Linked DNA regions of Homo sapiens. The protein of the gene in region 3 purifies or fractionates together with the protein of the main gene of each other region. This does not show direct contact. Each region holds a gene or a part of one and is shown on either strand. Other genes may lie near its edges.

What was found. Proteins that work in one complex are often made in the same cells at the same time.
Region 1: the proteins of FASN (region 3) and USP22 purify together in Homo sapiens (affinity purification with mass spectrometry; 3 studies listed by BioGRID and IntAct, with this or other methods). This does not show direct contact.
Region 2: the proteins of FASN (region 3) and CARM1 fractionate together in Homo sapiens (co-fractionation; 2 studies listed by BioGRID). This does not show direct contact.

The regions. Positions count from the first base shown.
Region 1 is NC_000017.11:21,040,002-21,047,761, forward strand, and holds the start of USP22 (ubiquitin carboxyl-terminal hydrolase 22), read right to left. Parts: upstream 3,011-7,760; 5' UTR 2,835-3,010; coding exon 2,664-2,834; intron 1-2,663. UniProt on the Homo sapiens protein: Deubiquitinase that plays a role in several cellular processes including transcriptional regulation, cell cycle progression or innate immunity.
Region 2 is NC_000019.10:10,909,543-10,916,562, forward strand, and holds part of CARM1 (histone-arginine methyltransferase CARM1), read left to right. Parts: intron 1-2,641; coding exon 2,642-2,752; intron 2,753-4,334; coding exon 4,335-4,512; intron 4,513-6,864; coding exon 6,865-6,955; intron 6,956-7,020. UniProt on the Homo sapiens protein: Methylates (mono- and asymmetric dimethylation) the guanidino nitrogens of arginyl residues in several proteins involved in DNA packaging, transcription regulation, pre-mRNA splicing, and mRNA stability.
Region 3 is NC_000017.11:82,088,228-82,095,247, forward strand, and holds part of FASN (fatty acid synthase), read right to left. Parts: intron 5,545-7,020; coding exon 5,371-5,544; intron 5,193-5,370; coding exon 4,992-5,192; intron 4,793-4,991; coding exon 4,670-4,792; intron 4,586-4,669; coding exon 4,470-4,585; intron 4,363-4,469; coding exon 4,228-4,362; intron 3,458-4,227; coding exon 2,995-3,457; intron 2,843-2,994; coding exon 2,655-2,842; intron 2,338-2,654; coding exon 2,148-2,337; intron 1,914-2,147; exon of another isoform or gene 1,733-1,913; intron 1,500-1,732; coding exon 1,405-1,499; intron 1,158-1,404; coding exon 1,023-1,157; intron 946-1,022; coding exon 742-945; intron 650-741; coding exon 534-649; intron 336-533; coding exon 163-335; intron 81-162; coding exon 1-80. UniProt on the Homo sapiens protein: Fatty acid synthetase is a multifunctional enzyme that catalyzes the de novo biosynthesis of long-chain saturated fatty acids starting from acetyl-CoA and malonyl-CoA in the presence of NADPH.

The DNA.
Region 1 (7,760 bases), about 61 Mb from region 3:
CAGCCTGTGCAATATAGTGAGACACTGTCTCTACAAATATTAGCCGGTCGTGGTGACACACGCCCGTAGTCCCAGCTACTCAGGAGAGGCTGGAGTCCAGGAATCTGAGGCTGCAGTGATCACTGACCAGACCATTGCACTCCATCCTGGGTAACAGAGCAAGACTCTGTCTCTACAAAAAATAATTTTTAATAAAATAAAATTTAAAAAACAAAATGTCCTAAGCTTACAGATCTGATGGAAATCCTATGCAGATTGTCCAACTGTTAATCATCAGGTTTGTTAAACTATTTCCCAAACCAACTCTTCCTTAACTGGGCCACTAGAGAGTGCTAGAAATGCAGGACACCGCACATGAAGTGATACAGGTAAATAAGTCCCCCCAGTCAGAGGAAAAAGCATGGAGGGCTTAAGGGCTCCTTGCTGGCACACTGCCAACTGGCACTGCAGCAGCCCCCACCTAAATTTTGAAAGAAATATTTTTCACTACCCGACTACAGTTCAACTTCTAATTGGTGAATAACATACATGTGGCTCAACAGTTTTGAAACTAAGCAACTGACATCTGAAATTAAAAGATTAATCAGAGCCATAAGTAGCGCAAAAAAAAAAAGTAATTCTTAACTTTAGGAAATTAGGCAAAGTTAGTTAATGATGGTTTAAACTTGACTCCTTCTATTTGGTTAAAAAATACCAGAGGGGGGAAGAAAGGGAGAGGGAGGGAGGGAACGGAAAAAGAAAAGGAGGGAGAGGAAGAGTGGGGCGGTCCCCACTTCATCCAAAGTAGTAACAAATCTTGGGCGCGTCACGTCCCAATCCGGACACTACTGACCCAGAGTAGCAACAGCACATTCCCTGTAGAAGACTGGCTTCAACCAGGCCACCCTTTTTTTTTTTTTTCCGGAGGGGGTCTTGCTCTGTCACCCAGTCTGGAGTACAGTGGCGCGATCACTGCTCACTGCAACCTCCGCCTCCCGGGTTGAAGTGATTCTCCTGCCTCAACCTCTGGAGTAGCTGGGATTACAGGCGCCCGCCATCACACCCGGCTACTTTTCGTATTTTTAGTAGAGATGAGGTTTCACCATGTTGGCCAGGCTGGTCTCGAACTCCTGACCTCGTGATCTGCCCCCCTCGGCCTCCCCACGTGCTGGGATTACAGGCGTCAGCCACCGCGCCAAGCCAGGCCATCTTTTCTTAAAGACACACAATTCTACTAGCAAGACTCTAACTCCGATCCTGAAACGTTTTATGTCTGATTTTAGTTCATCCAGACATAACGCTACCTGATACCATTACAGATAAAAAAAATTTTGAGGCCGGGCACGGTGGCTCATGCCTGTAATCCCAACACTTTGGGAGGCAGAGGCGGGTGGATCACCTGAGATCAGGAGTTCCAGACCAGCCTGGCCAACATGGTGAAACCCCGTCTCTACTAAAAATACAAAAATTAGCCGGGCGTGGTAGCAGGAGCCTGTAATCCCAGCTACTCAGGAGGCTGAGGCAGGAGAATCGGCTGAACCCGGGAGGCGGAGATTGTAGTGAGCCGAAATCGCGCCACTGCACTCCAGCCTGGGGTACAAAGCGAGACTTCGTCTCAAAAAAATAATTTTTTTTTTGAATTACTGCTTAACATACCCTACAATCTCAGCGAGCCTGTTGGTATTCCCATAAATAAAAAAATGCCACTCAAGGTGGAAACTGCCCTCACAACTCCCAATCTCGGATTGTAATCTACAAAAGCGCGTGAAACTGTAAAAATAAACTTTATTCACATAGAAGAATCACGTTACGTTTTGATTTCCAAACCCTTACCAAGCCTAACTGCGGGACGCAAGACTGGGCTCCCCGAGGGGACTCACTCCTGGTTAAGGCCTCCCACAGCCCACGGCGCGCTTCCAAGTCTACTCCTCAGCCGCAACGCAAACCCGGGCTGTGGCTCCGCACCCACAGGCTCGCCCCGGCCCCAGCCCCTGCCGCCCTCCACCTCCAGCTCCTCGCGGGCCCCGAGGCAGCCGCGAAGCTCCGGCCCCGCGCCCCCCAGCCCGCCTCCTGCCCCAGCTCCCGTCCAAGGTCGCTCCTGGCGGCGGGTGACCGCTGCAGACCAACGCCCAGAACTCGACAGCCCCCCATCCTTTACTCATTTTTTTGAAATATTTCTTTCTCTGCACCCGCATCCAGCCCCGAACCCTCCAGAACCAGGAGAGTTCCCCGCAAGGACCTCGCGCAGGAACGCCCGGGACCGCCCACCGAAGTCCCAGGCTCCCCAGGCAGCAGGGCAGGAGAACACCACCCCCGGCCCGGAAGCACTCGCCCCTCCCGGGCCAAGAAGGATAAGGGAGGGGGAGGGCGGAGAGAAAGGAGGGGGAGGGGACAGAGAGGAGGGGGAGGGGACAGAGAGGAGGGGGAGGGAAAGGAAGAATGGGGGAAGGGGGGAGAGGGGAAGGATAGGAAGATGAGGAGATAAGGGAAGGGAGAGAGTTGAGGGGGGAAGGAAAGGAGGGGGAAGGGGTAAAGAGAAGAGAGGGCAGAAGGAGAGAGGAAGAGGAAGGACAGGGAAAGGCAACGGGGGAAGGGAAGAGGGCAGGAAAAGGGCCCCTCCGCCGGCCGGCCTCAGGAGCGGCAGAAGGCCCCGAGCCCGCCGCGCGGTGGGCTGCCGGGCGCACCTTGCGCTTGCGGGCCTCAGCCGTGCCGCTCCACACGAAGCACTGGTAGATGGCCCGCAGGTTCTGCTTCCAGTTGTCCACCTTGAAGCTGCCCAGGTGCGAGCAGCCCGGCGGCGCTACCGCCAGCTCGGCGTCCATGGCCTCGCCCTCGGGCTCTGGCCGGGACACCATGGGGGGCAAGGCCCGGCCGCGCGCGGGGGGCGGCGGCGAGGGAGGCGAGGACGACGCCAGCGCGGCGTGGGGGCTGCTCGGCGGCTGGCCAGGCTGGCCAAGGCCCGGGCGCCGAGAACAAAGCGCGGAGGCCGGACAAAGATGGGGCTGCGCGATCGCCGAGGGGAGGCTGCAAGGCAGGCACCGCCCCCGAGCTGCGGCTGCTGCGGACCGCCTGCGCTGCGCTCTCGCGGTTCGCGGAGGGTGTCGCGGGGCGGGGCGCCGCGGCCGCGGACGGAGATTACGTCACCCCCCCCCCCCCTCCCGGCCGGCACCGCACTGCGCAGTCTCCAGCCCGCGCCAGGCCCTTCCCCCACACTCGCGCGCCCGTTAGGCTCTGGGTAGACCCGCGCCCGAGGAAGCGTGGTAGGGGGGGGAAGCTAACGAGGGCCCGCCCCTCCCCTTCCTTTATTGGTAGTAGGCCACCCCCCCCCCCCCCCCGGCACCTTCGGCTATTGTCATAGGCTCTCAGTATAGTCCGTCTGGTACAGAGCCGCCTCCCGGGACCCTGGCGGCTAGACGTTCCCTGTCTCTTCCAGAGGACTGGGGAGGCGGGGGCGTGCTGCGGTTGGGCGGCGCGAGACGTCAGTCCTAGCACTGAACCGGTTTGCGCCGGCCTGAGCTCTGCCGCAAAGAGGCGGGGCGATGAGCTGGAGCGCCGCAGGTCGGGCCTCCATCCAGGGCCTGCGCTTTCCCACCCAAAAGCACCCCCTAATCGGGAGCTGTTTGCAGGGCCCCCGGTTGCCGTAACCTGGCTCGGGCCCTGCAGTGCCGTGGCCCGGGGCTGGAACTGCCTGCCAACTGCCTGGTAGGCGCTGCCCCCGGCCGCAAGCTGGGGCGCCTCCTGTCGGGAGCCCGCTGATAGTGAGGGCCAACCCGGCGCCATCCAGTTTAAAGAGGCATCTGCGCGCCACACGCCTGACACTTCACATTTGCTAGTGGCTACATTTTTCTAATGAAAAAAGAAAGTTACAGTAATATATCTCAACCCAATAAAGTCAAATTATTTCAGCATGTAGGCAGTATTGCAAAATCGTTAGTGGAATGTTTTACAGTTTTTGCAGCAAGTCTTGGAAATCTGGTATTTACACTTAAAGCACATCCAATTCCTACTAGCTGCTACCGCAGTGGGCGGCACAGGTCTAATCGGTATACAAATAACTGACCCAAGGCAAACTGAGAAGACATTTAAAGACGAATGCAAACGAAGTTCTGGGGGAACCAGGGCGCCAAGGGTCTGGGGGAACTTGGATAAGGTGTCAGGTGTGGAGCTGCTCCCCTGTACTCATCCCGCTGCTAACTGCTTTGCTCATTCATTCATCCACAGATTGCAGGAAACAGCAATTGCCGTCCAGAACCATCACAAGTTAAAAAATAAAGATTGTGATCTCACAACACTTAAAGCTACAGGGTTTAATGGACTGACGACTGGGATAAAGCTTTTGTGGCCAAGACAAATTGCCGAGCACAGGTTTTTGCCTCATGGCCTTCGTGCTTGCAGTACCCTCTCCCTAAAATGCTTTCCCTACCCCCTCACCCTCTGCATCCTTATATTCCATGTCTGATGCTCGCTCACCTCCTTCCAGCTTTATCACACACCTCCTTTTCCGTGAAAAGGAAAATTGCCACCCTAATGAAAATTGCAAGCCCCCCAAAATTCTCCATTCCCTTACCCTGCTTTGTTTTTCTCCAAAGAATTTATCACTATCTGGCGTAATGAATATTTACTTATTTTTTTTATTGTCTCTTCCCTTAATAGCATGAAAAATTACGAGAGGGTAATCTTTTTTTTTTATTTTTTATTTTTGAGACAGAGTCTCGCTCTGTTGCCCAAGGCTGGAGTACAGTGGTGCAATTTCGGCTCACTGAAACCTCCGCCTCCCAGATTCAAGCGATTCTCCTGCCTCAGCCTCCCCAGTAGCTGATATTACAGGCGCCTGCCACCACGCCGCTAATTTTTGTATTTTTAGTAGAGAGGGGCTTTCACCATGTTGATCTGGAACTTTTACTAGAAATGGGGTTTCGTCAGGCTGGTTTTGAACTTCTGACAGCAAGTGGTCCACCAGCCTCGGCCTCCCACAGTGCTGGGCTTATAGGCGTGAGCCACTGCGCCTGGCCTCCAAGAGGGTAATGATATTGTGTGTTTTATGTACTACTACAGCCGCAAGTTCCCAGAACTGTATTGGCTACATGCAGGTACTCGGAATTACCCGGTGAAGCCCTATAGTAGTCCCAGCTACTCCAGAGGCTACGGCAAGAGGATCGCAGAGCCCAGGAGGTCAAGGCTGCAGTGAGCTGTGATTGTGCCACTACACTCTAGCCTGGGCAACAAAGCAAGACCCCATCTCTAAACAAAACAAAACCCTGCCGAATTAATTAACCCGAAACACATTTACAGAAAAATCTAACGAGACCATTTCTAGAATAAAACACTTGTTAAGGAAAACCATGTTTATGTTAGAGGAAAGAATGTCAGCTTACAAAAAACTAAAATCCTAACTAGTAAGTCAGGAATTACAAAAATATGTGATCCATCTCTATAAATATTGATGTAAGGAGTTTTCTCATATTGTTGGGCTTATACAAATATGATTTGGCTTCACAAATGTGCACTTAGCATTCAGGCCCTAATATTTATTATCTTTTTTTTTATCAATACGATCATCTAAGCACAGAAGAATATCTGTGCTGTCCACTTGAATCAATTATAATGATTTAAATGTTCCATAATCAGAACAACCTTAGTGATTTTAAAAAATTTAAACTACAGAATATACTCTTGAGAAGCAGTCCCCAAAAGATGTATGGATGAAGTGCTTTTTTTCTAATGGGAAACAAATGGAAACGTTAATGACGATTAATAGGAGAATCATTGAATAAATGATGGACTAGCCATTCTAGGGAATAGTACACAGCTATTAAAAAGAATGAAGTCCAGCTTGGGCAATGTGATGAAACCCTATCTCTACAAAGAAATTAAAAAAAAAAAAAAAAAGCCAGTTGTGGTGGTGCACGCCTATAGTCCCAGCTACCCAGCAGGCTGAGGCGGGAGGATTGTTTGAGCATAGGAGGTCGAGGCTGCAATGAGCCCTGATCATGCCAGTGATTCCAGCCTGGGCAACAGAGAAAAAAAAAACTAGATCTGTAAGTACTAGTACAAAAAGTCATAAAACATAAATGAATACAACAAATTGCAGAAAATTACAGAAAATATGCTGACGTTTGTAGGAAAATAATGGAAGGCCTGGAAGAAAGAAACACACCCATCAATAACAGTAACTTCTGGAAAGGAAAAGGTAGATGTGACTTAATCTGTAATGTTTGAATGTTTTCTTACAATGAAAATTAATATATTCCTTTGTATTTAAAAATCACTAAAACTTAAAAAGAAATGACAAAGTGTCATGGTACGAGGGAACACACTGTTCTACAACATGTAGAAAACAGTGGCCCACATGTTCAGTATATGCATTTATTCATGTATCCAAGAATCAAGTCAGATTGCTAAATTACAGTCAGGCTCTGCCACCTACTATCTGTGTAACCTTGGGCGGATTGCCTAAATTTCTCAGCCTGTTCACTTATCTGTTAAAATTGGGAGAATATCAGCTCTGTGCTTACGTTGAAGTGTATGGCAAGGAATAAATGAGATAATCCATACAAAACTCTTAGCAAGTGCCTGTTGTTAATAAGGGCTCAAGAAACATTAGCAGTTATTGATCTGATAGTTGCTGGCAATTGAGATGATTACAACAATTTCTTGCTTCAAGAATCCCAGGAGGATGGGAGAGGAGAATTTTTTTTTTTTTAATTTAAAAAAAAAAAGGCCGGGCATGGTGGCTCACGCCTGTAATCCCAGCACTTTGGGAGGCCGAGGCGGGCGGATCACAAGGTCAGGAGATCAAGACTATCCTGGCTAACATGGCGAAACCCCGTCTCTACTAAAAATACAAAAAATTAGCTGGATGTGATGGCACCATTGTAGTCCCAGCTACTCAGAAAATCGCTTGAACCCGGGAGGTGGAGGTTGCAGTGAGCCAAGATTGCACCACTGCACTCCAACCTGGGCGACAGAGCAAGACTCTGTCTCAAAAAAGAAAGCCAGGTGGCCTATGCCTGTAATCCCAGCACCTTGGGAGGCCAAGGTGGGTGGATCACTGAAGGTCAGGAGTTCAAGACCAGCATGGCCAACATGGTGAAACCCCATTTCTACTAAAAATACAAAAATTAGCCAGGCGTGGTGGTGCATGCCTGTCATTGTAGCTACTTGGGAGGCTGAGGCAGGAGGATCACTTAAATCTGGGAGGTGGAGGTTGCAGTGAGCCAAGATCGCGCCACTGCACTCCAGCCTTGGTGATACAGTGAGACGGTGTCTTAAAAAAAAAAAAGAATCCCACAGTGTAGTGTGCTTAGTAGCAATATTGCCAGCAACATTAGCGGGATGTTATAGGAATATAAAACTGCAGCGATAAAGGAAAGTCTAGGTAATATCGTAATACTCCAAGACACCTCTTTACCGTAATCCTCCCCAGACAGGTATGGTGGAGGAGATCTGGAAATGTTTTTTGATGCCTTACCTAGGTATGGAAGACAGGGTTTTTTTTTTGTTTTGTTTTGTTTTTTTGAGATGGAGTCTCGCTCTGTCACCCAGGCTGGAGTGCAGTGGCGCAATCTAGGCTCACTGCAAGCTCTGCCTCCTGGGTTCACACCATTCTCCTGCCTCAGCCTCCCGAGTAGCTGGGACTACAGGCGCCCGCCACCATGCTCGGCTAATTTTTGTATATTTAGTAGAGATGGGGTTTCACCTTGTTAGCCAGGATGGTCTCGATCTCCTGACCTCGTGATCCGCCCGCCTTGGCCTCCCAAAGTGCTGGGATTACAGGCGTG
Region 2 (7,020 bases), on a different chromosome or scaffold from region 3:
GGCTAACACGATGAAACCCCGTCTCTACTAAAAAATACAAAAAAATTAGTTGGGCGTGGTGGTGGGCGCCTGTAGTCCCAGCTACTCAGGAGGCTGAGGCAGGTGAATGGCATGAACGCAGGAGGCAGAGCTTGCAGTGAGCTGAGATCGCGCCACTGCACTGCAGCCTGGGCAACAGAGTGAGACTCCATCTCAAAAAACAAACAAACAAACAAAAAAAACAAAAAGCAAGAAAAACAAATGCATTTGATATATAAACTCAACACAGCATGTACATTATAGGCTTGAGAGGCCTCTATCAGTTCCCTCCAAGATAGCCGCTACCCCTCAGTATGAGGTCTCTTCTTCAAGATTTTTCCCCATACAGACATCAGCGTATATTTTACAATTATTTTATTGAGCTGGGCAGAGTAGCTCACACCTGTCTGTAATCCCAGCACTTTGGGAGGCCAAGGCAGGGGGATCATTTGAGCCCAGGAAGTTGAAACTGCGGTGAGCTGTGATTGGGGTACTGCTCTCCAGGCTGAGCCAAAGTGCGAGACCCTGCCTCAAAAACAAAATAAATAAGCTTTTTGATATCACCAAATAATGTGCACTCATGATTAAAGAGAGAGAGAACAGAGCAGAACGTCTGTATTCAAAAGTAGAAATCGGCCAGGCACAGTGGCTCACACCTGTAATCCCAGCACTTTGGGAGGCTGAGGCAGGTGGATCACTTGAGGTTAGCAGTTCGAGACCACCCTGGCCAACATGGCAAAAGCCCATTTCTACTAAAATAAAATACAAAAATTAGCTGGGCGTGGTGGCAGGCACCTGTAGTCCCAGCTACTCAGGAGGCTGAGGCAGGAGAATCACTTGAACCTGGGAGGCGGAGGTTGCAGTGAGCCGAGATTGTGCCACTGCACTCCAGCCTGGGCAAGAGAGCAAGACTCCGTCTTAAAAAAAAAAAGTAGAAATGTATAATGTATTCCCTTCTCATCCCATTTGCCAGAGTTTTTGGTGTCTACCTTTTTTATTTTTTTATTTTTACTTTTTTTTTTATGAGATGGAGTCTTGCTTTGTTACCAGGCTGGAGTGCAGTGACACAATCTCGGCTCACTGCAACCTCCGCCTCCCGGGTTCAAGCAATTCTCCTGCCTCAGCCTCCTGAGTAGCTGGGACTACAGGCGCACACCACCAAGCCCAGCAGATTTTTGTATTTTTGGTAGAGACAGGGTTTCACCATGTTGGCCAGGATGGTCTAGATCTCTTGACCTCATGATCCACCCACCTCAGCCTCCCAAAGTGCTTGGATTACAGGCATGAGCCACTGCACCCGGCTTACTCAGAATTTTTGTTTTCTCTTTCTGTTTTTGGGGGGTTTTTTGAGACAGATTCTCACTCTGTCACCCAGGCTGGAATGCAGTGGCACAATCTCAGCTCACTGCAGCCTCTGCCTCCTGGGTTCAAGCGATTTTTGTGCCTCAGCCGGCCAAGTAGCTGGGATTACAGTCATGTGCCACCATGCCCGGCTAATTTTTGTATTTTTAGTAGAGATGGGGTTCTGCCATGTTGCCCAGGCTGGTCTCAAACTTCTGGCCTCAAGCAGTTCATCCGCCTCAGCCTCCCAAAGTGCTGAGATTACAGGTGTGAGCCGCCGCACCTGGCCTGTTTTCTCTTTTGAATCAAATGGGAGCCTGTTTTTTTCCTCCAAGTATTTTGGGGATCTCTCCACGTGGATCTGCATGGATCTGCCTCATCCAGCGCCTGGGTCACGCCCCCCTAGCATCGCTTACCGTCCCAGAGGATGGTAGGCCTTGGGCCCTGGGGAGGAGTTGTCTTGACACAAGAGTGTCTGCCCTGGCAGGGCCATCCCGAGCCTCCTCCTGGCCACTGAGGTCTGGGAAGGACGTCCTCCGTTGGTGAAGTCCCTTCCTGCTCCCCAAGGATGGAGATCCATTTCCTGGTTCATCTGGAGCTCTGATCAGTACCCTGAGGCCTTCCCACCTGACCCCAGCTTCCCCTGCAGGCACTCACCATGCCCAGAGCATTTGTCCTTCAAAAGCTCATGCCTGTCACCACCAGGAATGTCTGTCCTTGGTCTGCTCGTGTGGAAGCAATCCCACAAATCCAGAACAGGTGGTGTGTTCTCCCAGACCCTGGCCTGGACTCTGCCATGAGTGACCACCACGGGCCAGTAGCCCTGCGGGGAGCCCAGCCGGCCCCAGGGCTTGGGCGGCTCACCTGCCCCAGCCAAGACGGGCTGCTTCTCCAGGCATGAGTCAGCATGGAGCTGGGAGACACTGCCACCAACAACTCGGGCCCCTTTCCTCCATGCTAGAACTGCGGAGGCCCCGGAAAAATGCTTTTCAACTGCCAGTGAGCTTCCAGGGGAGGCCCGTGCCACTCACCCCAGACGATCCGGAGGCCTGCAGGCCACAGGGTTGGGGCCGAGCGGGAGCTTCCCCAGGGCTTCTCCTCCCGGAGGACTGGCCCATGGCTCATCTTGAGTTCTCGCTTCATTTTGACCAAGAGCCCATAAAGGGCAAACATTGAGAGTGAAGACAGACGCCTCATGATGTGCACATCCCTTATGATCACTGTCACCTCCCCATCACCGTCGCCTCCTATGTCTCGCTCTCACCTCCCACTCCTCCCTCAGATCGTTCTTGATGTTGGCTGTGGCTCTGGGATCCTGTCGTTTTTTGCCGCCCAAGCTGGAGCACGGAAAATCTACGCGGTGGAGGCCAGCACCATGGCCCAGCACGCTGAGGTCAGTGGCCCGCTGGTGCCCACCCAGCCTCGTCCTCGCCCATGAGTGCCATGCCGGCCCCAGCCTAGAGAAGCTTGGGAACCCCCAGGGGCCTGGGGACATTACTTCTGTGCTTTGGTCTCTTTATTGTCCCCAAGACAGTCATTTCAGGGAGGGGCTTCAGGGCCTGAGATGATTTTCTCTCATGGCCGGTAGTCAGGGCCACATGTCATTTCCCTGTTTTCTTTTTTTTTTTTTTGCACTGAAACCTTCATTCACAAAGTTCAAAACATAAAAGCTAAAAAAGAGCAGACAGCGTGCTCTCCTTCCCCACCCCAGCTCCCACCCCCAGCCCCATCATGAGAGAGGAGCTACGGCCACAAAGTCTGAGCAGAGCTATTCCGTGAGCGTCCTCTCGCACCAGTGGAGGCTGCACCCTCCATTCCCTGCTCTGCCTCTCCCATGGATCTGGGGTCGCCGGGGTCGTGGAGGGGCCATCTTTGTTCTGTCTTGCCGCCGCAGAGCACCCCTGTGCCCAGCCGTGCCGCTGTTGCTTTAGCTGCATTGTGTCCGCAGCGACACTCAGACTCCTTCCAGGTCTTCACGTGGCCAACGCTGCTGTCCTGAGCCCCTCTCCCACATGCGGTTGTGTCTGTAGGACACACCCTAGCCCTGGAATCGCTGGGTTGGGGGTGCATCCAGCTTTAGCTTTGGTGGCTGTTGTGATGTCTGCTCGTCCCCCTCTTTGCAGCCACCAGCAGTTGTCGACGCAGGGTGGGGGACCTAGGAGGCCGCAGCAGGGGACGGCCCTGAGGCAGGGCCGGGGTCACAGTGAACTCTCTTTTTTTTTGGGGGGGGTCTCACTCTGTTGCTCAGGCTTGAGTGCAGTGGTGCGATCCTGGCTCATTGCAACCTCCACCTCCCGGGTTCAAGTGATTCTCCTGTCTCAGGCTCCTGAATAGCTGGGATCCACCACTGCAACTGGCTAATTTTTGTATTTTTAGGCCAGGCATGGTGGCTCACACCTGTAATCCCAGCACTTTGGGAGGCTTAGGTGGGCGGATCACCTGAGGTCAAGAGTTCGAGACCAGCCTGACCAACGTGGCAAAACCCCATTAGCCAGGCGTGGTGGTGGGTGCCTGTAGTCCCAGCTACTCGGGAGGCTGAGGTGGGAGAATCGCTAGAACCCGGGAGGCAGAGGTTGCAGTGAGCCGAGATGGCGCCACTACCACCTCCAGCCTGGGCAACAGAGTGAGAATCTGTCTCAAAGAAAAAAAAAATAGTTTTTTTTTTTTGGTATTTTTAGTAGAGACAGGGTTTCTCCATGTTGGTCAGGCTAGTCTCCCAACTTATGAGGTCAAGCAGTCCGCCTGCCTCGGCCTCCCAAAGTGCTGGGATTACAGGCATGAGGCACCGTGCCCGGCCCACAGTGAGCTCTTAACAGGCTATGGCCAATCGCAGCCATGGTTGGGGCGCCAGCGAAGCAGGCAGAGGGGCACCCAATGCCCATGTGTGGATGGAGGCTGTCCCTTGAGAGCAGGTCTAGGGAGGGCCCCATGGCAGGAAGACGCAGGGAAGCCCACATGGCCCTGCCCGCCTGCAGGTCTTGGTGAAGAGTAACAACCTGACGGACCGCATCGTGGTCATCCCGGGCAAGGTGGAGGAGGTGTCACTCCCCGAGCAGGTGGACATCATCATCTCGGAGCCCATGGGCTACATGCTCTTCAACGAGCGCATGCTGGAGAGCTACCTCCACGCCAAGAAGTACCTGAAGCCCAGCGGTGAGCACTGGGGGGTACACAGGCCAGGCCCCTCGGTGGAGGCCCTGGCTGCCGCTGAGCCAGGCCATCAGTGCTTCAGCTCCCTGCTTACTGTCGGTGGCCCGGGGTGTAGGGAAGCCTGGGCTTTTCCCCCGCTCCCACCCCAACCCCACTCCAGCCAGCTGTGGCTTTTGGAGCCCTGGGCCCCAAACACGGCCAGACACCCAGCTGCCCACTCGCCCAGACAGGGTACACAGGATCTCCTGGCACCTCTGCCGTCCCATGTCCTGCTCCTGCGGGACAGCCTCTGGCTGGGAGTGGGGATTGGGACAGGTTCTGTGGTCAGCAGTTCCCCAACAAGCCCTGCTCTCCTCACAGTCCAGGAGGTGGGGTGGGCGAGCATGTGTGCAAATGCAGGGGTGTGGGTGCGAGTGTACGTGTGTGAGGAGGTGAGGTAGCTGTCTGGCAAGCCCATCTGTCACTTCCCATCCGTGCCTCTGGGTATGGCCTCTGGTCACTGGGTGACTGTTTCTTTTTTTGAGACAGAGTTTCACTCTTGTTGCCAAGGCTGGAGTGCAGTGGTGCGATCTCGGCTCACTGCAACCTGCACCTCCCCAGTTCAAGCAATTTTTGTGCTTCAGCCTCCTGAGTAGCTGGGATTACAGGTGTGCACCACCACGCCCAGCTAAGTTTTGTATTTTTAGTAGAGATGGGGTTTCACCGTGTTGGTCAGGCTGGTCACGAACTCCTGACCTCAGGTGATCTACCCGCCTCAGCCTCCCAAAGTGTTGGGATTATAGGCATGAGCCACTGTGCCTGGCCTGGGTGACTGTTTCTATTTGCCCATCTGTCTTGGGGTCTGTGCAGCCCTGACGCCTGAGGCATGTGCCTGTGGCTCTTCTCATGCTAGGTATGTGAGCGTCTGAGCATTTCTGTACAGGCAAGCAGCTGTGTGTGCGTGTGGCAGGGTACAGGTCCCCAGCCAGGGTAGCAGCCATGGGATGGAGCGTGGGCAGCAGCAGGCTGGTGGGGCTTGTGCAGGCAGGGGCAGGGGGGAAGCTTCCACTCTCATCTCTGGCCCGCCCTGGATCCAGGCCCTAGGGTCCTGGCTGGCTGTGCTCCTGGAGGTGGGAGGTGGCGTCCCACAGCTGTGTCTCATGTCTTGGGTGTGAGTATGGGAAGCAAGGCTGCTCCAGGGGCTGTGGGCCCCACTCTCCTCCCCTTCTGCCCTGATGGTGGGGATGGGGGTGGGGACAGCCCCAGCAGAGAGGGCCCCTCCCGATGGGACATGAAGCCAGATGGCAGTCAGGCTCTGTGGGCAGCTGCATGTGCCCCCGACGTCCCAGCAGCCAGCTTGCAGGGAGGGGGGAGGCCAGGCCTGTGCAAGGAGGACTCCTGTCCAGCTCAGGAAGCTCTTCCAGGGGTTAAAGGCAGCCCTCCCCTCTCCCAGTCACATGTCTTCTGGTCAGCAGGAGCCAGAGGTTCCTTCCAGGCTGGGTCACTTCCCATGGTGCCCCCAGGTCCCCCAGGGCAGAAGCCGCAGCATGTGCATCTCCCTCCCCGTTCCAGCAGCTGCAGCCCTGCAGCTCTCGCCTCGGGTACAGCCTGGTGGCGTAAGGAGGAGGCAGAGTCCCACTGATACCTCAGGATCTCCTCCCCCAGCTTGCAAGGCTGGGGGGCCCACATCTGGAGGCCAGGTGCTCCTTGGGGCAGGCGGGGCTGCGGGGCCCTGATCCTCCCTGCCACTGGCCCTGACTCATGCGTCTACCCTTGAGTCACAGAGGGAGGCCCTGCCCTTCCCTCAGTCTGTGTGCCCAGACCAGGCAGGCCAAGTGGCCCATCCTGCCGGCTGGGTGCCTGTGCCAGAACCTAGGCAGTCCCTGTGGTGTGGATTTGGCTTCCCCCACCTGGCTCTTGGCCTCAACTGAGGTCCCCAGCGGCGTTGGGGTAGCCCGGGGCCCACCACCCTCCCTCTGTCCAGAGCAACTTTGCTATGCTTTCCCGGCTGCACACATGCACAGACGGCAGGGCCTGAGAGGCAGCGCCTGGCCACATCCCGGGCACTGCCTGCTTCCCCGTGAGTCTTTGGCAGGTCCCTCACACCTGCCAGGTCTAGTAATAGGACATAAAGATGAGCCACCAGCCTCCCAGTCTCAGGTGGAATTCGTGAGCTGGTGCAGGTCAGGTACCCGTGGTGGTGATGAAACACTGATCAGAATAGGCGCTCGGTGCCACTGTCACAGGAGTGCAGGAACGAATGGATGACAGGCTGGGAGCACCCAGGGTTGGGGGTCTTGGGGTCCTTTGGAAGCTCTGCCAGGCAGTGTGGGATGTGTCACCTGACGCCAGCACCCCTCCCTGCCCCACTCCCAGGAAACATGTTTCCTACCATTGGTGACGTCCACCTTGCACCCTTCACGGATGAACAGCTCTACATGGAGCAGTTCACCAAGGCCAACTTCTGGTGAGTGTGCCCTGGGTGTCCCGCCTGGGCCCCACAGCCTGCCTTCTCAGGGACAGCCCCAGCTC
Region 3 (7,020 bases):
GTAGCCAGTGGCGGGGAAGAGGACGCGACCGTCGAGGGTGTGGTCCACCAGGTAGTGGTCAGGAGACTCGGAGCTGGTGTCTGCGGGAGGGCACAGGCCTCAGCACAGAGCGGGCGTCTGTGGGGAGGGAAGAGTCTGCCCACCCGCCGGGCCCCTGCTCACCGATGTTGTAGATGGCGGCTGAGGGGGAACCTGAACCGTTGGGGAAGTCCTCGGCGGCCGGCACGTCCCAGGCCAGGCTGTGGTCCCACTTGATGAGTGGGGAGATGAGGGGAGTTCCTCGGGGAGCTGGGAACTCCACAGGTGGGAACAAGGCATTGGGGTTGGCGTCGATGCTACGGAGAAGGGAGGCATGGGTAGCACACCCGTCACCGGGGTCCAGGGGCTCTGGGTTCAGCCCACCCACTGCCTGCGGTGGACCATCCAGGGCTGCTGCCACCGGCCTGGGTCAGTGAGGGGCCCGCAGCCCCGCTCACCCACCCCACGCCGTCCCCGACTCCGGGAGACGAGACCCGGGCTGGGAAGGGACCCACCCTGAGAGGTGCAGCCTGCCGATGCCGGCCAGGAAGAACTCCAGGTTGTCCCTGTGATCCTTCTTCATCAGGGGGATGATGGTGCAGCTCGGCTTCAGGCCACGCTTCAGGACAGCCTGGGGGCGGCAGGGCAGGTGGGCTCTCTTGGTGCTCAGCTGAGGCGCCCATCCCAGGCTCCCGGCGCCTGCTGCCCCCAGGCTGGGCCTACCTGCAGCAGGGCGTGGGGCGCGATCTCCAGCACCACCGCGTGCTCAGGCACGTGCCACAGGGCCTCCTGGAACAGCACAGGGCTCACCAGGTTGTTGACATTGTACTCGGCGGAGGACGTGCGTGCCAGGCTGCTGTGCCACTGGGCCTCGGGGATAGAGGTGCTGAGCCAGCGGGCTGAACGTGGCTTCGGCTCCCGGATCACCTGCATGAGGGGCCAGGTCAGTGCTGGGTTGTGGGTCCCCTGGCCCGCCCCGCACCCCCCAGGCCGTATTAGTCCACCTTCTTGAGCTCCTGCAGCAGTGGGGGTGCGATGGCCTCCATGAAGTAGGAGTGGAAGGCCATACCGCCGGTCCGCACCTCCTTGGCAAACACACCCTCCTTCCTCAGCTGCTCCACGAACTCAAACACCGGGGCCTGGACATCGTGGGAGCCTGGATAAGCATCCTGGCTGGGCACCCACCTCAGGCTCGGAGAGGTAGGGCGCACCCACCTCACCCCAAGGGAACCGAGAGGGAATGGGCAAGGGACCTGAGGACAAACCTGCCCCATGCCCCAGGCCCGTCAGAGCTTGGTGGGGCGTAGACCGTGGCCGCGTGTCCCTGCCAGACTTGCAATGGCAGGCGCAGGGGACAGAGGAGCCCGCCCAGGCCGCAGCACCCACCTGAGGTCCCGAGATGGTGACTGTGTCCTTGGAGTTGTGGCAGGCGGGCACCACGCCCGGGGGGCAGCGCTGTTTACACTCCTCCCAGGACAAGCCTATGGCAGAGCCAGCCTCAGAGGCTTAGCGTGGACACCGAGCCGCTCCCAGCCACCCACCCACCCAGACACTGCCTGCAGCTGGGGGCAGTAATGACAAGTGTGGTAATGGCAGCCTTGGAGCCTTCATGAGAAAGGTTCGCCCCCTGCTGTGTTTGACCCGTGGGTGGAGGTGTCATTACAGAGCTGCCACTCCAGGGGCAGCTCCTGGGAGCCCAGTCCCCAGATGGTGGCCCCCTCAGTCCTCTGCAGCCAAGGTTCTTTCCAGGTCCTGCCCACATGTGGCCCATGGGGCTCAGAGATGGGTGCCAACAGAGGGCACCAGTCTGAGGGAACCCTGATGACCCGTGTGTTGGCTTCACCAGAGCCCCTGGGTTCTTGCTATGCTGCAGCTGTGTGCTCATCACACGGGGGCTCCACGCAGGCCTGATGCCCATGGACACGTGCCTAGGCCCAAGGCTGCCAGGTGTGGGGCCAGTGGGGCAGCTGCAGGGGACTCGCGCACGGCTGTGTCCGAGCTGGGTGTCCCCGGGCCAGCGGGGGCCACTCTATCCTACGGGGGCCAGGCCAGGGCTGCAGGTGAGGACCCCACAGCGAGAAGGCAGCCTCCTTTCTTGGAGGTGCTGGGGGCCCCTCCGGGAGACCTACCCACGGCTGCCATGGCGCCCGGCGGGAGATGGGCTTCTTTGATGCACTGTCCCCTCCAGTAGGCAGCGAGGACGGCCTCCTCCTGGGACAGGCAGCCGTCGGCGTAGCCACAGGCCACCTCCCCCAGGGAGTGGCCGACGATGCCATCTGGCCTCAGCCCCATGCAGCTCAGCAGGTCTATGAGGCCTATCTGGGGTGGGAACAGGACACTCAGGTTGCAACCTCCAGCAGGTGCAGCTGTTGGGGGCGGCCCCCGGCCCCACTAGGCCATCTCCACCCCCGCGCCCCATCGACCCTCCCAGGTCTCCTGATAGGAAAGAAGCCCCTATGGCCCCCACACAGCCCCACTGAGACCCCTCCTCCCCTCCCGTCCTGCCCCCAGCACAAGGCTCTGCCTAGCAAAGGGGCTGTCAGGGGCCCCGGACTCAACACTGCAGCTCCTGGGCTCCAGGGAAAGCCAGAGCCCTGGGGCTGGCGTTGCTCACACGCTGGCAGGCTGGGCCCTACCTGGATGGCAGTCAGGCTCACAAACGAATGGACGATGTCATCAAAGGTGCTCTCGTCTGTGCTCAGCAGCAGCTGTGACACCTTCAGGCCGAATGGCTTCACAGCCTCATCGGAGCGTAGGATGGAATCTCGGAAGCGGTCCAGGCGCATGAGGCTCAGCCCCATCCCGCGCCACTGTGTGCCCATCCCTGTCCCAGAGAGCACGTCACGAGGCTCAGCCCCATCCCGTGCCACTGTGTGCCCATCCCCGTCCCAGAGAGCACCTCAGGGGACCACCAGCTCCAGTTCGCCTGCCTTTCCCCAGGGAAGGGACCACCTTGGGGGCAGAGTGTGGGCTCACCAGAGCAGATGAACCAGAGCGGGCGCTCGCCAGCGGGCACCTGCTGCACCTCTGGGCCACCGCGCTCACCACCCAGCACAGCGTAGCCACGGAAGGGCATGGCGGTGGCGGGGACAGCCGCGATGTCGTTCAGCATGCTCAGGAAAGCCAGGTCCTGGCTGTGCCGGAGGCCCTGCTCCAGCAGCTTCTGCACGGCCTCAGGGGTGCGTCCGCTGGCCCGCAGCAGACGGGGCAGGGTGGCATGTGGGGCGGGTGCGGGGGGCGGCTGCGTGTTGGGCCTCAGGATGATGTGCACGTTGGAGCCCCCGAAGCCAAAGGAGTTGATGCCCACGTTGCCGCCACGGACGGGCAGGGGCTGGTCCACCACCTGCAGCCGCCCATCCAACAGCGCTGGGATCTCAGGGTTGGGGCTATGGAAGTGCAGGTTGGGGGCCCAGAGCCCGTGCTCCAGGGACAGCAGCACCTGCGGGGGTACGTGGTGGATGGGCAGCCGCCCCACTCCCTCTACCACTGCCTGAGCTGGGGGCAGGCACCTCCCCGAGACTCTCATGTGGGGCCAGGGTTCCAGGGCCCTCTCCGATGCACTTCCTGTCCCCAACCTAATTCTGCCATGGCACAGGGGTCCGAGGACTGAGCCGCCATGGCCCTGCCCTCAGCTTGGTCCAAGACCTCCCCTTCCGGCCTTGCTGCCTCCCAGCCTGATGTGGACCCACCAAAGCCTGGCTGTGGCCTGAACACTAAGGCCCCCTTGGCCCAGATGTTGCATCTCAGAGGCTGCAGAAGTTGGGGGGCAGAGGGCGTGAGTGATCATGGGTGTTGGGGCTCCTGTGCCTGGTCTCTCTAAAGGTCCCCAGGCCTCTGCTAGTGGGTCAGGAAGCTGTAGGGACGGGTGGGCGACACGGGAGACCCTGATGGTGCCGTGGACCCCCCCAGGCCTGCTCCTGCCTCGCTCTTCCCACCCAAGCGGCTCCTCCAGCTCGGCTCCGTGTCCGGCAGACGCTCTGCAGGGCATCAGGCCTCCAGGGAAGGCCCAGCGAGCCTGGCTACGAGCTCTCCCTGCTGTCAGCCTCAGTGCCTCTGCTCAGACCTGCAGCATAGCCCGGGGGACAGAGGCTCCTGGTGGGGAAGCCCCCGCCTCCACTTGGCAAAGAGAAAGCAGCAGTGCCCAGCCATGGCGCAACCCAGTCCCAGGGAGCAGGAGCCTGAGGGACCCCCAAGCCCAGCCCCACCTACCTTGGCCAGGGCTGCCAGCCCCGAGGCTGGCTCCGGGTGCCCCATGTTGGACTTGGTGGAGCCGATGAGCAGCGGCTCCTGGCGGGTGGCGCACAGGGCTCGGGTGATGCCATTCAGCTCCTGGGGGTCGCCCACCTGTGGGAAACATGGGGGGTGAGGGGCTCTGGCCAGGTCACCTCTCCAGGCATGGGCGTAGGTTAGGCTCATGGGGTGGTGAGTGGGGCGGGGGGGGGGGGCATCACCTTGGTGCCTGTGCCGTGGGCTTCGATGTATTCAAATGACTCAGGGGCCACTCCGGCCGACTGGTACAACGAGCGGATGAGCTGCTCCTGGATATCCCCTGAGGGGAAGGTCACGCCTGCGGAGGGCTCGGCTCAGTGCTGCAGCCCCAGCCCCGGCTCCCACCTGCCCCCCAGCACCCCGGAACCCCGGCAGAGCCCACCTTGCTCCTTGAAGCCATCTGTATTGGTGCCGGCGTTCAGGATGGTGGCGTACACCCGCCGGGCCAGGGACTTCTTGGTCAGCAGGACGGCCACCACACCCTCCGAGCGGCAGTACCCATTCCCTGGGTAGAGCAGCACCTCAGGCCCGGGGCTCAGCCCCACGCCGGCCCCCACCCCACCAGGAGGAGCTCTGGGGTGTGGGGTGGGTGCTTGGGTGGGGGATCCCCGGAGCTGGCAGGATCCTGCTCAGCGTGGGGACTGTGCGGGGGGCCGTCCTGTGCCACTGTCCCGCCTGCCCTGGCCGCGCAGCCGCACACTCACCCGCTGTGTCGAAGGCCTTGCAGGTGCCCTCGGGGCTGAGCATCCCCAGCCTCAAGAACTGCACGGAGGTGTTGGGCTTCAGCAGGACATTGATGCCCCCCACGATGGCGGCAGGGCACTGCCCGCTGTGGATGGCCTGGTAGGCGTTCTGCAGGGCCATCAGGCTGGAGGAGCAGGCTGTGTCCAGTGCGATGCTGGGCCCTGCAAGGAAGGGTGCTGCGGCTCAGGTGGGGCTGTGAGCACACGAGACCCCTGAGCACACCTCCTGCCACCAGGCTGGACACACACTGCACGGAGTGAGCCCACGCCACGTGGTTTCTGCTCAGCATGTGGGGACCTGAAGGCCACCCACCTCCGCAGGAGGCTGGGCAGGACCCACCTCTGAAGTCGAAGAAGAAGGAGAGCCGGTTGGCCATCATCGCTCGCTGGCAGCCCACCATGCTGTAGCCCACGAGTGTCTCGGGGTCTCGGCTCAGGGCCTCCGAGGTCTCAGAGCCGCTCACGCCCACCCAGACGCCAGTGTGTGTTCCTCGGAGTGAATCTGGGTTGATGCCTGCCACAAACAGTGGTCAAGGTGCCACGGCCGGGCCCCACAGCGCAGCCAGCCCACCCACCCACCCGGCTCTGGGGCGAAGGTCCCATCTTGGCCTCACTGGCTTGGGGTGAGGGGGGGTCCATCCCAGTGGGACCCTGGAAGGGGCCTAAGGAGGGTGAGGTGTCCTGCAGAGGGGCCAGAACAGAGCCTGTGGCCAGCAGCCAGCCCAGGTGAGGCCTGGAACAGGAACCAGGTCACAGAGGGAACGAGGCGGAGGGGGCAGGCGGGCCCAGGGGAGGGCACCAGGCACGGCCAGAGTGGCTCCAGGAAGGACAGAGGGCAGCATTGTCCCCAGGCGACGCCTTTGGCCCCTGGTGTCACCGGCAGCTCTGATGAGCCCGTCGGCCAGTGGCCTCTCCAGCGCCAAGGGCAGCCTGCACCAGAACAGGCCGTGATAAGGAACCGAGGAGACAAAGGCCAAGTGTCCAGGCTCGGGAAGGAGAGAGGGACACCGGTCACCCCCGGGGAGCATAACCTTAGTCTTGGGGTGGGGTCTGGCAGCAGGAAGGGCGCAGGAGAAGGGCTTCCACCTCTCGGCCAGCAGGGCCCCTCCTCGCCCCTGGTGGGCTGGCTCTGCCCTAGGGTGGGTGGGTGTGTGAACCGCTCACACCCAAGGGCAGCCCAGGGCTCAGCCTCCCCCTCAGGAGGTCCTTCTCCGCCCGGGGAGGGAGCACCTGGATCTTAAGAAATGGCATGGCTGGGCGTGGTGGCTCATGCCTGTAATCCCAGCACTTTGGGAAGCTGAGATGGATGGATCACGAGGTCAAGAGATCGAGACCATCCTGGCAAACATGGTGAAACCCCATCTCTACTAAAAATACAAAAATTAGCCGGGCGTGGTGGTGGGCGCCTGTAGTCCCGGCCACTCAGGAGACTGAGGCAGGAGAATGGTGTGAACCCAGGAGGCAGAGCTTGCAGTGAGCTGAGATCGCGCCACTGCACTCCAACCTGGTGACAGAGTGAGACTCCGTCTTAAAAATAAATAAATAAATAAAAATAAAAATAAAAAAACGGCGTGGCGCTTGTCCGAGGTCAAATGCCAGTCAGAGCGAGGGCCAGGCTGGCGGGAGAGGGTTGAAATGCCTGGGGTGGGGGGACGTGGGCAAGGGTAGTGGGGAGGGTGGGAGGGGAGAGACAGCAGGGCCGGTGCTGTCCGCTGCTTGGCTGGTGGGGGTGGGGGCCTGGAGGGCCCCTCAAGAACCTCCTGCTTTGCCTCTCGTCACTCCAGCCCCGGCCCCGGCCCCAGCACCAGCCAGACATCAGAAGCGAGGAGACTGGTACGCTCAGGTCAGGGCACACCCGCGACACCTCTGGGGTGCAGTTGGGAAACTGCGGCCTACCCCGTGGCCCACACCTCCCTGAGCCCGTTGGCCAGGCCAGGGGCACAGCCGGGGAGGGTAGGTGGTGCCAGCACCTGGTTCTACCAGAACCAAG